Linked DNA regions of Homo sapiens. The protein of the gene in region 1 purifies or fractionates together with the protein of each later gene. This does not show direct contact. Each region holds a gene or a part of one and is shown in the gene's direction. Other genes may lie near its edges.

The links.
Region 2: the proteins of HIGD1A (region 1) and PAK5 purify together in Homo sapiens (co-immunoprecipitation; one large-scale study listed by IntAct). This does not show direct contact.
Region 3: the proteins of HIGD1A (region 1) and EPB41 purify together in Homo sapiens (co-immunoprecipitation; one large-scale study listed by IntAct). This does not show direct contact.

What each region holds. Positions count from the first base shown.
Region 1 is NC_000003.12:42,787,344-42,790,999, reverse strand, and holds part of HIGD1A (HIG1 domain family member 1A, mitochondrial), read left to right. Parts: intron 1-3,656. UniProt on the Homo sapiens protein: Proposed subunit of cytochrome c oxidase (COX, complex IV), which is the terminal component of the mitochondrial respiratory chain that catalyzes the reduction of oxygen to water. May play a role in the assembly of respiratory supercomplexes.
Region 2 is NC_000020.11:9,832,477-9,836,132, reverse strand, and holds part of PAK5 (serine/threonine-protein kinase PAK 5), read left to right. Parts: intron 1-3,656.
Region 3 is NC_000001.11:28,917,507-28,921,162, forward strand, and holds part of EPB41 (protein 4.1), read left to right. Parts: intron 1-3,656. UniProt on the Homo sapiens protein: Protein 4.1 is a major structural element of the erythrocyte membrane skeleton. It plays a key role in regulating membrane physical properties of mechanical stability and deformability by stabilizing spectrin-actin interaction. Recruits DLG1 to membranes.

The sequences.
Region 1 (3,656 bases):
TCTACCTTCTTAAAAAGAGCTTGCCTGTTTACTTTGAAATTAGCTTGTTAATTGCAGCTACTCAGCAGGCCAAGGCAGGAGCGTCACTTGAGCCCAGGAGTTCAGGGCTGTAGTGTATAATGATCATGCCTGCGAATACCCACTGAACTCTAGTCTGGGAAACATAGGAAGACGCCGTGTCTGAAAAAAAGAGAGAAAAGAAAAAGAAACTGGCTTGCCCAGTCCAAAACGGGAAAAATGTCTCATTTTTACATTTGGATTACATTGAATTTATAAATTTGGAGAGAATGGAAATTTTAGAATGTGGTGCATCTACTGATTTTCATTCAAACCTTTTGTGTCCTTAAATATGATTTTATTGTTTTCTCTAGGTCTAGAAATTTAATTTCTCTAGATATGCTTTTTAATGTATTCATCAAAGTAATCTTTTTTCTTATTGGTTCTAGTTGTTTTTCTTTCTTTCTTTCGAGACGGAGTCTTGCTCTGTCGCTCAGGCTGGAGTGCAGTGGCACAATCTCAGCTTACTGCAACCTCCGCCTCCCGGGTTCAAGCAATTCTTGTGCCTCAGCCTCCCGAGTAGCTGGTATTACAGGCGCCTGCCACCATACCTGGCTAATTTTTGTAGTTTTAGTAGAGACAGGGTTTTGCCATGTTGGCCAGGTTGGTCTCGAATTCCTGACCTCAAATGATCCACCTGCCTCAGCCTCCCAAAGTACTGGGATTACAGGCGTGAGCCACTGCACCTGGCCTCTAGTTGTGTTTCATTTGATTCTCTTGGATTTCCTATACACACAGTTAGATGATCTGCAAACCAGTAGAGTTTCTTCCTAATTATGCGTATAGTTTTTTTTATGTGATTTAAAATTGTTTAGGATATCCAGGCAACAACAGCAGTATTCACATGTATCCCTGTCTTATTCTGATCTTTAAAGGGAACTTTTTTTTCTTATCTCTTTTTCGTTTTTTAATAAAAAATAAGGCTGAGCACTTTGGCTCATTCCTGTAATCCCAGTGCTTTGCGGGGCTGAGGCAGGAGGATCACTTGAGCCTAGGAGTTCAAGACAGCCTGGGCAACACAGTGAGACCCTGTCTCTACAAAAAAAATTTAAAAATTAGCTGGGCATGGTGCCACACGCCTGTAGTCCCAGCTACTTGGGAGGCTGAGATGGGAGTTTGCTTGAGCCTGGGAGGTCGAAGCTGTGGTGAACCATGATCATGCCACTACAGCCTGGGTGACAGAGCAAGACCCTGTCTCTAAATAAATAAATAAATAGATAAAAATTAAAAATGGAATATTTATAGTGTTTTAACACTAAGTACAATTTGTATTTGCTTTTGGTGTCTGAACTATATTCTAATTTACTTTTACTATTCAGATGTTCACATAGTTTCATCTTTCGTGAATCTTAAGAGATTTTTCGTTTTTTTTTTTGTTCTTGGATGTTCTTCCAGTGAATTCTTTTTTTTAATTTATTTTTTATTAAAATTTTTTTTTTTTGTAGACACAGGTCTCACTCTGTTGCCCATGCTGGTCTCAAACCCTTGGCCTCAAGCAATCCTCCTACCTCAGCCTCCCAAAGTGCTAGGATTACAGGGATGAGCCACTGCTCCTGGCCAAGATTTTCTTATGTAAAAGCAATGGTTAATTCCCAAAGTAGGCCAGGCACAGTGGTTCACACCTATAATCCCAGCACTTTTTTGGGAGGCTGAGGCAGGCAGATCATGAGGTCAGGAGTTCGAGACCAGCCTGACCAATGTGGGGAAACCCCATCTCTACTAAAAATACAAAAATTAGCCGGGTGTGGTTGGCACATTCCTGTAATCCCAGCTACTCGGGAAGCTGGGGCAGGAGAATCACTTGAACTCAGGAGTCGGAGGTTGCAGTGAGCGGAGATTGCACCACTGCACTCCAGCCTGGGTGACAGAACAAGACTCCGTCTCAAAAAAAAAAAAAAAAAAAATTCCCAAAGTAAAAACCTAATGATCATGGTTGATAATATTATTCTAATACATTTTAAAGTTGATAAGCTAGTATTTGGTTTAGGAATTTTATATCTATGTTTATAATTTATATTGCTTTGTAATTCTCTTCTCATGGCTTTTTTTTTTATTTTTTAGTTTTTGGAGACAGTCCCGCTCTGTCGCCCAGGCTGGAGTGCAGTGGCAGGATCTCGGCTCACTGCAGCCTCTGCCTCCTGGGTTCAAGTGATTCTCCTACCTCAGCTTCCTGAGTAGCTGGGACTACTCCCGCCACCACACCAGGCTGATTTTTGTGTTTTTAGTAGAGACGGGGTTTCACCATTTTGGCCAGGCTAGTCTCGAACTCCTGTTTTCAAGTGATTCACCTGCCTCGGCCTCCCAAAGTGCTTGGATTACAGGTGTGAGCCACTGCACCCAGCCTCTTATGTTATCTTAATTTTGTTTTGGTATCAGGGATTTGTTTTCTTGGAAAATATATTGGAAAAAAATGTATTGCTATGTTTTTAATGCCCTGGAATACTTTAAATAACATGAATTGAGAATGCCCTTATAATTTTTATTAGACCTTGTTAATGAAACTATTGGGGTCTTTATCTTTTGGGGATAAAGCATGGATTGCCCATTTAATTCTTTCTATGGTTATTGGTATAGAAAGGTTTTCTACAACTTCTTGAATCAAATTTAGGAATTTGTATTCTCCTCAGAAATCATTCATTTCACCTAGATTTTCAAATTTAATTGGCAAAGAGCAATCATCTCTTATTTTTAAAAATCTCTTTATCACTTGTGATTATATCCACTTCCTCATTCCTAATGTCGTATGTTTATTTTCTCTTTGATCAGACTTCCTAGAGGTTTTACAATTTTATTTGTTCTAAGAACCAGTACTGTTTTTATTTTTCAAATAATGTTTGATAGCTTCCTAATCTCTCAGTTTTTACTTTAACCTCCAAATCTAGTTATTGGTGCTCAGCTTCTCAGTGGTTAGAGGTGGGGGTATGTGTGTGGTTGTTTTACGTTTTGATTGCTAAGTTTTGGCCTTATGGTAGTCATCCAGGAAGAAGGACTTTTTGGAAGTTGGAATTTTCTTTGTGGCCTAATAAATGATTGGTTTTGTCAAAGCTTCATAGACATTTTAAAGAATGTGGGATCTCTGTTTTAAATTAAAATATTAAATTTTATTTATTTTTAAGAATTTAAGTAAGTTTATTTAATGGTGCCGTGCAATTCTGTAGCTTTAGTTTGGGGCTTCTTATTCTGTTGTTTTCTGAAAGAGACAGATTTTCCCATTTTGTTGTCTTCTAATAGAGCTAATCTTGTGTTCCTAACAATTTTTGCTCCATTTATTTATTTTGCTGCTATATTAGATTATTTTAAAGTTTTATGACTTTAAAAATTTATATATATATATATATATATATATATTTTTGAGATGGAGTCTCGCTCTGTCGCCCAGGCTGGAGTGCAGTGGTGTGATCTCGGCTCACTGCAACCTCCGCCTCCCAGGTTCAAGCATTCTCCTGCCTCAGCCTCCCAAGTAGCTGGGATTACAGGCGCATGCCACCATGCCCGGCTAATTTTTTGTATTTTTAGTAGAGATGACCAGGCTGTTGGCCAGGCTGGTCTCAAACCCCTGATCTCAGGTGATCCACCTGCCTCAACCTCCCAAAGTGCTG
Region 2 (3,656 bases), on another chromosome or scaffold:
TAAGGGAACTAACCTATTTGAGGCTTTATATACACAACCATGGTAGGGAAGAGCAGGGTTCAAAAGTACCTCATTTATGCATGTCACTTACCTGGGAGCCAAGACAACCCAGGACCTGGATCTTCTAGAGTATCTCAAACATACTGTGCCCCCAGTTGATTTGTTGATGTTGCCTTCCATCCTTCTTGCTAACCTTCCAAACAAATGCAAAAAAACCAAAATGCATTAAATAACAAAAACAATAATAGCAACAAAGGCAAGCTAACAACTTTCTAGTCCTTCTTAACCTGGTAAATGGCACCACTATCCATCGAGTTGCTTTAACCAGAAACCCAAGAATCACCTTTGACACCTCCTTTCCCTTGACCCTCCACATTTAAAACCATCATGCAGTCTTATAAATGCTATTTTCTCTATAGATCTCTAAATACATCTTGATAAATTATTTCTATCCCCACCACCACCACTATCAAACTGCAAGAGATGATAATCTCTTACCTGGACCACTAGAATAACTTCCTAACAAGACCCCTGGTTCCTTGCCTGGCTCTTCTAATCCTTCATCCAGAGCAGAGAGGATAATGTCAGTTCCCTACATAAAATACCACCCACACACCTGGGACAGATTCCAGAGACTCCTAGAGCCTCTGATACTTGGCCAGCCTCATCTTGTGCATCTCTTCCTCTTGATGCTGTCACACTGACCCTCTGTCTGTTTCTGGAACATCCCCAACCATCTTCCCTCTATATTTTACCAGTCTGGGTCATACTCATCCCTTGGGCTTCCTTGATCTCTCTTCCCCACCGACCCAACTCTCTCATCATCCTTTCACTTTTATTCCACAGCACTTATTCCAGTTTGCAAATGCCTGTTTGTTTGGCTATGTCTGTAAGCTCTATAATGGCCATTTATTTTATGTCTTATATGCAGAAGGTGCTCAATGAACTTTTGGTGAATGAGTGAAGGAACGAATACTCTGCCTCATAGCATTTTCCTGTGCCAACTTCAAGATCTGATTTTTAGAAGGTTTTTCTTTTCTAGTATAGAAAGAGCAATTTAGAACCTTATTCTGACTTCAAAAGGAGAGTATTCTTGGCTTTAACAAATGCATCTTTTAAGAACTGATTTAGGCTAGAAGTTAAGAATTGAGTCAAAATATTTTTTTGGCAACTGAGGTTTTTGTAAAAATACATCAATCAGTCAATAAATATTCTGCAAATATTTATTGCATGTGTATATTTGCCATGCTACACCCTTGGAAGACAATGGTGAGCTAGACTTTCAGTCTTCTGGAAATTAATGGTAAACAATAAATAATAATCATTATGTATAATAATAAATAAATAATACATTTAATTATTTGTTGAGCTTCTGTTATATGCCAGTGTCTCTTCAATTCCTGTCCATAATCATCACTATAACCCTCTAATCTTTCCCAATAACACAGAACCCCACACTTACTAGGAGCACAACAAATATTTTGTGAATTAATAATTTGTTGGTATTATTATTCTGATCTGTTGAAATAGGAAATGTGTGCTTATCTGGGGAAAAAGGTATCTGCACATATATAGAAGAGCATGCAATTGCTTTCTCACCATATCTAGGTGGGCACTGTTTTATTTTAAAAATCATCCTGGACATTATCTCTGGAGGTAAATTAGGAGAGAAATTGCTCTTTATAAGGCGACAAGTTCCTGGTGTGTTTCTGTCAAAATCCTGAATTGTTTTATTTCGTTTAATTGTCTAAATTTGTCCTGTTTAATCCAAGTGAGAAGTGACTTAATGTCTCTCATTCAGAGCCCTTTTTGTAGTTTTGAATAGTAAGACTGAGTGCCCAAGGGAAATGAATGTAGTTCAACAGAGGAACACATGTTATGTTTTAGATTTCTAAAGTGGCTTCAATTTCAGATTTTTATATTAGTCTCATAAAAGGGTGATTTTTAAAAATAAACAGTAAAATAGCATTTAATGCCTATGTTTAAGTAAAGTTTTTAATGTAAGTAACCAAAAATTAGACAGTGTGCCTTGATTTTGTTTAAAAGTGATGGATACACAATGGGATCAATTAAAGCCTAAAGGAACTAGTACAAAATTTCAGTAATGTTTTTGGTTATAAAATACATGTTCAAAAATTGATGGCCACCCAAAATGCCAGTGTTTTACTAACTAAAAAGTAGAATGGAAAATGATTCTATTCATGAATTCACTAATATATAAATTGAGTGGGAAAAACAGGAAACATACATAAAATACTCGTGAATAATAAGAAATATATAAAAGTCTTTGTGGAAAGCTATACAATTTTACTCAAACCAATAAACTGAGGAGCAAACAAAGAAAGACATACCTTATGCTTTGGTAGAAAGATGAATATTATGAAACGGTTATTTTTCCCAGATCAATTATATAGTTTTATTACATTGGGATTTGGGAGAACCTTACAAAATGATTCTAACATCCATCTGGAAGAATCACCATATAAAAATAAAAGAAAACTTTTCAAAAGAATAGTAGTGGTGGTGGGGGAGGTGAGTGGTGGTGGTAAGATGGGAGGTGGTGGTACATACAGGTGGTGTGGAGAGTGGAGTTCTAGGGGTGGTAAAGGTGGGGGGAAGTTTGATGGTGGAGACGAATACATGAAGGTGGTGGGATGAGGTGGTATGGATGGGGGTGGTGGGTGGTAGATGTGGGTGGTTGGGGGGTGAAGGTAGGTAGATGGAAGTGGTAGTGGTAATGGGCGCCATTGTTGAAACAAAAGTAAATTTGATCATTGGCTACAATCATTATAGCAATGTAGTACTGGTGTAAGAATTGATTAATAGCTCAGTGGAATAGAAGAGCCTGGAAACAGATTTAGGTCATTCTTAGAACCAGAAATATGACGAAGAAGGCATTATGAAACAGTGAGGAGTATTTGACAAAACGTCATGGAAATTGGCTAAGTGTATAGAAAGCATTCAACTAAGAACCTCTGTTTACATGACCCTCCAAATGAAATTCCACATAAATTGATAAGTTTATATGCAAGGTGGAAAACAAAGCTAGAATAAAATATTTAACTAATTTTAGGGGAAGTACTTTTTAAATATAAAATCAATGGGAAGAATCACAAAGCAAAATAAAGATTTGAATATATTTTAAACTCTCATATGCAGCAATGCATGCATTTTAAACAGAACAGAATCATGGAAAACAATATTGACACCAAACATGACATGACAGTTCATGATAGCCCTGAGGAACTCTTGCAAATCAGTGAGTAAACAATAGCACCCCAATAGAATTGTCCAAATATCTGAATGCATAATTCAAAAGGAAAAAATAAAAGACCAATGCACACGTTTAATAAATGTTATTACTATTAATCACAGAAATGCAAATTAAAATAACAATGAGGTGGTGTGTTTTATGTATTAAAAAAGTAAAAAATACAAAAAATAAACTTAATACTGGCAAGGATGCAGTGAGAAGGACAATCTCTTTCATTACTTGTGGTGGGAGGGTTACATAATACAAGCTTCCTACAGAGAAGTTTAAAAATACTTATCAAAATGTCTGCCAGGCACGGTGGCTCATGCCTATAACACCAGCACTTTGGGAGGCCAAGGCAGGTGAATCACTTGAGGCCAGGAGTTTGAGACCACCCTGGCCA
Region 3 (3,656 bases), on another chromosome or scaffold:
TTGACCTCGTGATCCACCCGCCTCGGCCTTCCAAAGTGCTGGGATTACAGGCATGAGCCACCGTGCCTGGCCCTGTATACATATGTTTTTAGAGACAGGGATCTTACCTTGTTGCCCAAGCTGGAGGGCAGTGGCATGATCCTGGCTCACTGCCGCCTTGAACTCCTGGGTTCAAGTGATTCTCCCACCTGAGCCTCCTGAGCAGCTGGGACTACAGACGTGCACCACCATGCCCAGCTTTTTTTTTTCGTTTTTAAAACACGGGGTCCTGCTATTGTTTCCCAGGCTGGTCTCAAACTGCTGGTCTCAAACTCCTGAGCTCAAATGATCGTCTCACCTCTGCTTCCAAAAGTGCTGGGATTACAGACATGAGTCACTGTGCCCAGCTTAGTCTGTATTACAGACATGAGCCACCATGCCTGGTGTGTAATTGTTGGTGTGAATGATAGAGTTTGCTTACTTTTTTTTAATGTAGTAATCCAGTTTCATATTGCTAATCTGATTTCATAACTTTAGAATATCAGTGGCCATGAGAGGCTGAGTTTGGTTCTGAAATCAAGAGGAGCATAGATGTAGACCACAGTCTGTTTCCTTGTTATCTAAGAGGCAGGACAGCATAAGTGTTGCCAGTGTATTTTTGTTTTTCTTGTCTTTTCTGTCTCAGCCTCCTGAGTAGCTGGGACTACAGGCACACACCACCACACCCAGCTAAATTTTTGTATTTTTAGTAGAGACGAGGTTTCACCATGTTGGCCAGGATGGTCTCCAATCTCTTGACCTCGTGATCTGCCCACGTCCGCCTCCCAAAGTGCTGGGATTACAGGCATGAACCACCACACCCAGCCAATGGCCTGTATTTTTCTGAGTTTCATCAAGTTTGTGTTTGGTTAAATGCATATTCAGATGTGGATTCATTGCTACCTCTATATTTGAATTTTTTCTTTAATTACTTGAACATGGAATCACTTTATTTTGTGAGCTAAACAACAATAATTCCAATAACTTTTCTTATGAATAACTTTGTTTTTTTCCTCTAAATAAAGCCCCCAAAGATGGCCTCTGAATTAATCAGTTATGGGCCTTATGTATGTGAAGGATCCAAAATTATTGAAAAGTAATTGCTAGCTAGGTGCAGTGGTTTATGCTTGTAATCCCAGCACTTTGGGAGGCCGAGGCCCACGGATCACTTGAGCCTTTGAGTTTGAGACCACTGCATTCCAGCCTGGGCAACAGAGTGAAATTCTGTCTCAAAGAGAAAAAAGAAAAAGTAATTGCTTGATTGCATTTATCATAGCATTTAGTTAGAGGAGAGGAGAGGCAGATGCCAAATGTATGTTATTTTTTGTTGTTCATTTAAGTTTCTTGGTATGTCACTGGTGGCTTTTACTGTGCGTCCTTTTTAAGAGTGGGTTCATGGTGTGTTTAGTCAAATGCAATATAACTTACTCTGGAGTGCACACTGGGTTAGATTAGTATTTTGATTTACTCTGCTGCTATTTAATGAATACATAGAAAGATAAAGAAGAATGCTGTAGCAGTGAGGAGTATTCAGAACTTGGAGGTGTTAGAAAGGAGAACTTTGATATTTTATATTGAGTGCTGATCTCATTTAGAACTACCCACCTTACTGACACTTTGCTTCAAATATTGGTTTTGGGAAAATCCGATTATGATGAAAGTCTGTTTATACTTATTTTGCTGATTTTTTATTTAAATTGAATTGTATCCACTTAAAATATTTGAAAATAAATTGGCTAGCTCTTTGAACTTTGGAGAACAGCAGCCAGTATAATTCAAGGAGTAGCTTGAAGAGACTTTAATATCCCCTACCCGCTAGCTTCGTCAGCTTCCCACTAAGTCACCCTAAGTAAACATGCAATCTGGGTAGGAACTGGGAGCTTGATATCCAAATATTCTGTCTCTCCTTCCAGTCAAATTGCTATCCTTAAAAGTCCTTTCTTTCTTTTTTTTTTTTGAGGCAGGGTCTTGCTCTGTTGCCTAGGCTGGAATGCAGTGGCATGATCTCGGCTCACTGCAACCTCTGCCTCCCGGGTTCAAGCGATTCTTCCGCCTCAGCCTCCTGAGTAGCTGGGACTACAGGCATGCACGGCTAATTTTTGTATTCTTTGGTAGAAACGGGGTTTCACCATGTTGGCCAGGCTGGTCTTGAACTCCTGATCTCAAGTGATCCATCTGCCTTGGCCTCTGAGAGTGCTGAGATTACAGGCATGAGCCACAGCATCCAGCCCAAAAGTCCTTTCTATATAGAAATTCCAGAGACATTCTGGCGTCATGCTTTTAAATTATTTATTGTTTTATTATTTTTATTATTTTATTATTGCAATTAAGAGCAGTTCTCTTTTTTGCAAGTTATCTCTTATCTCCAAGTTAAATCTATGTGGATTAAACTGTGATTGTTTATTGAATTGCTGCTCTCCCTCTTCCGTAGCTGATGACTCTTTGAGTCAGTTCTACCCAATTAATCTAGGCCCTCAACTCTCAGGGTGATCTCTGCTTGTGGAGATTAAAATTGTTTCTAAGCTATGTGGAATAGAGCTTGGGTAAGGTTAAAGAAATTTTGGCAGGGTGGGTAGGAAGGGGCAAGATTATCTGTCTGATGGAATGGATAAGAAATATGACTGTGAGTTTATATTGATTAGATTGGAAGAAGCAATAGATGCTCTATTAAGATTATTTTCTATTACCTAATTCTATATTCAATGTATATCTACAATTCTGTTCTGTTATCTAATATCTATTAATAGAGACAGGAACACCTCCATCTTTTTTTGGAAATAGGTGGAAATAATCAAATAAGATTGGATATAATCTGTACTCTTGTAGTTAATTGTTATTTATAGATGCAACCTGATTCCATCCTCCACAAAAGTCACCCTAATGCAGATCAGCTTTTGGTAGGCCCTCTATATGTTTGAATCATAGCACCGGACACAACATAGACTGAGGTTTTGGTACTTTCTACATTAATATTCACTCAGAAAACTTTTGCCCATGCATTATATTTGTTATATCTGCATTAAATCATAAAAAAGTTATGATAGAAAAGTTTCAAGTGAGAAACTCCCCGTGATTTAACTATATTAGAGCACAGGATTATTTTATTTTTATTTATTTATTTATTTATTTTTTGAGACAGGGTCTTACTCCTGTCACCCAGGCTGGAGTGCAGTGGTGCGATCATGGCTCATTACAGCCTCAACTTCCCAGGCTCAGGTGATCTTCCCACCTCAGCCTCCTGAGTAGCTGGAGCTACAGGCTCCACACCTGGCTGATTTTTTATATTTTTAGAGACTGGGTTTTGCCATCTTGACCAGGCTGGTCTTGAACTCCTAGGCTCAAGAAATCTGCCTGCCTTGGCCTCCCAAAGTGCTGGGATTACAGGTGTGAGCCATGGCGCCCAGCCTATTTTAATTTTTAAAAATTTATATGGGGAGTCTCTCTATGTTGCTGAGGTTGGTGTTGAACCCCTGGGCTCAAGTGATCCTCCTGTCTCAGCCACCTAAATAGCTGGGACTACAGGTGTGTGCCATCACATCTAGCTAATAGAGTTGTTTTGAATTGGTTAAATTTAAGCCTGTAACCCATACGTGTAATAGAAATGTATATTTTTGGTGATTTATGAATACATAGTATTA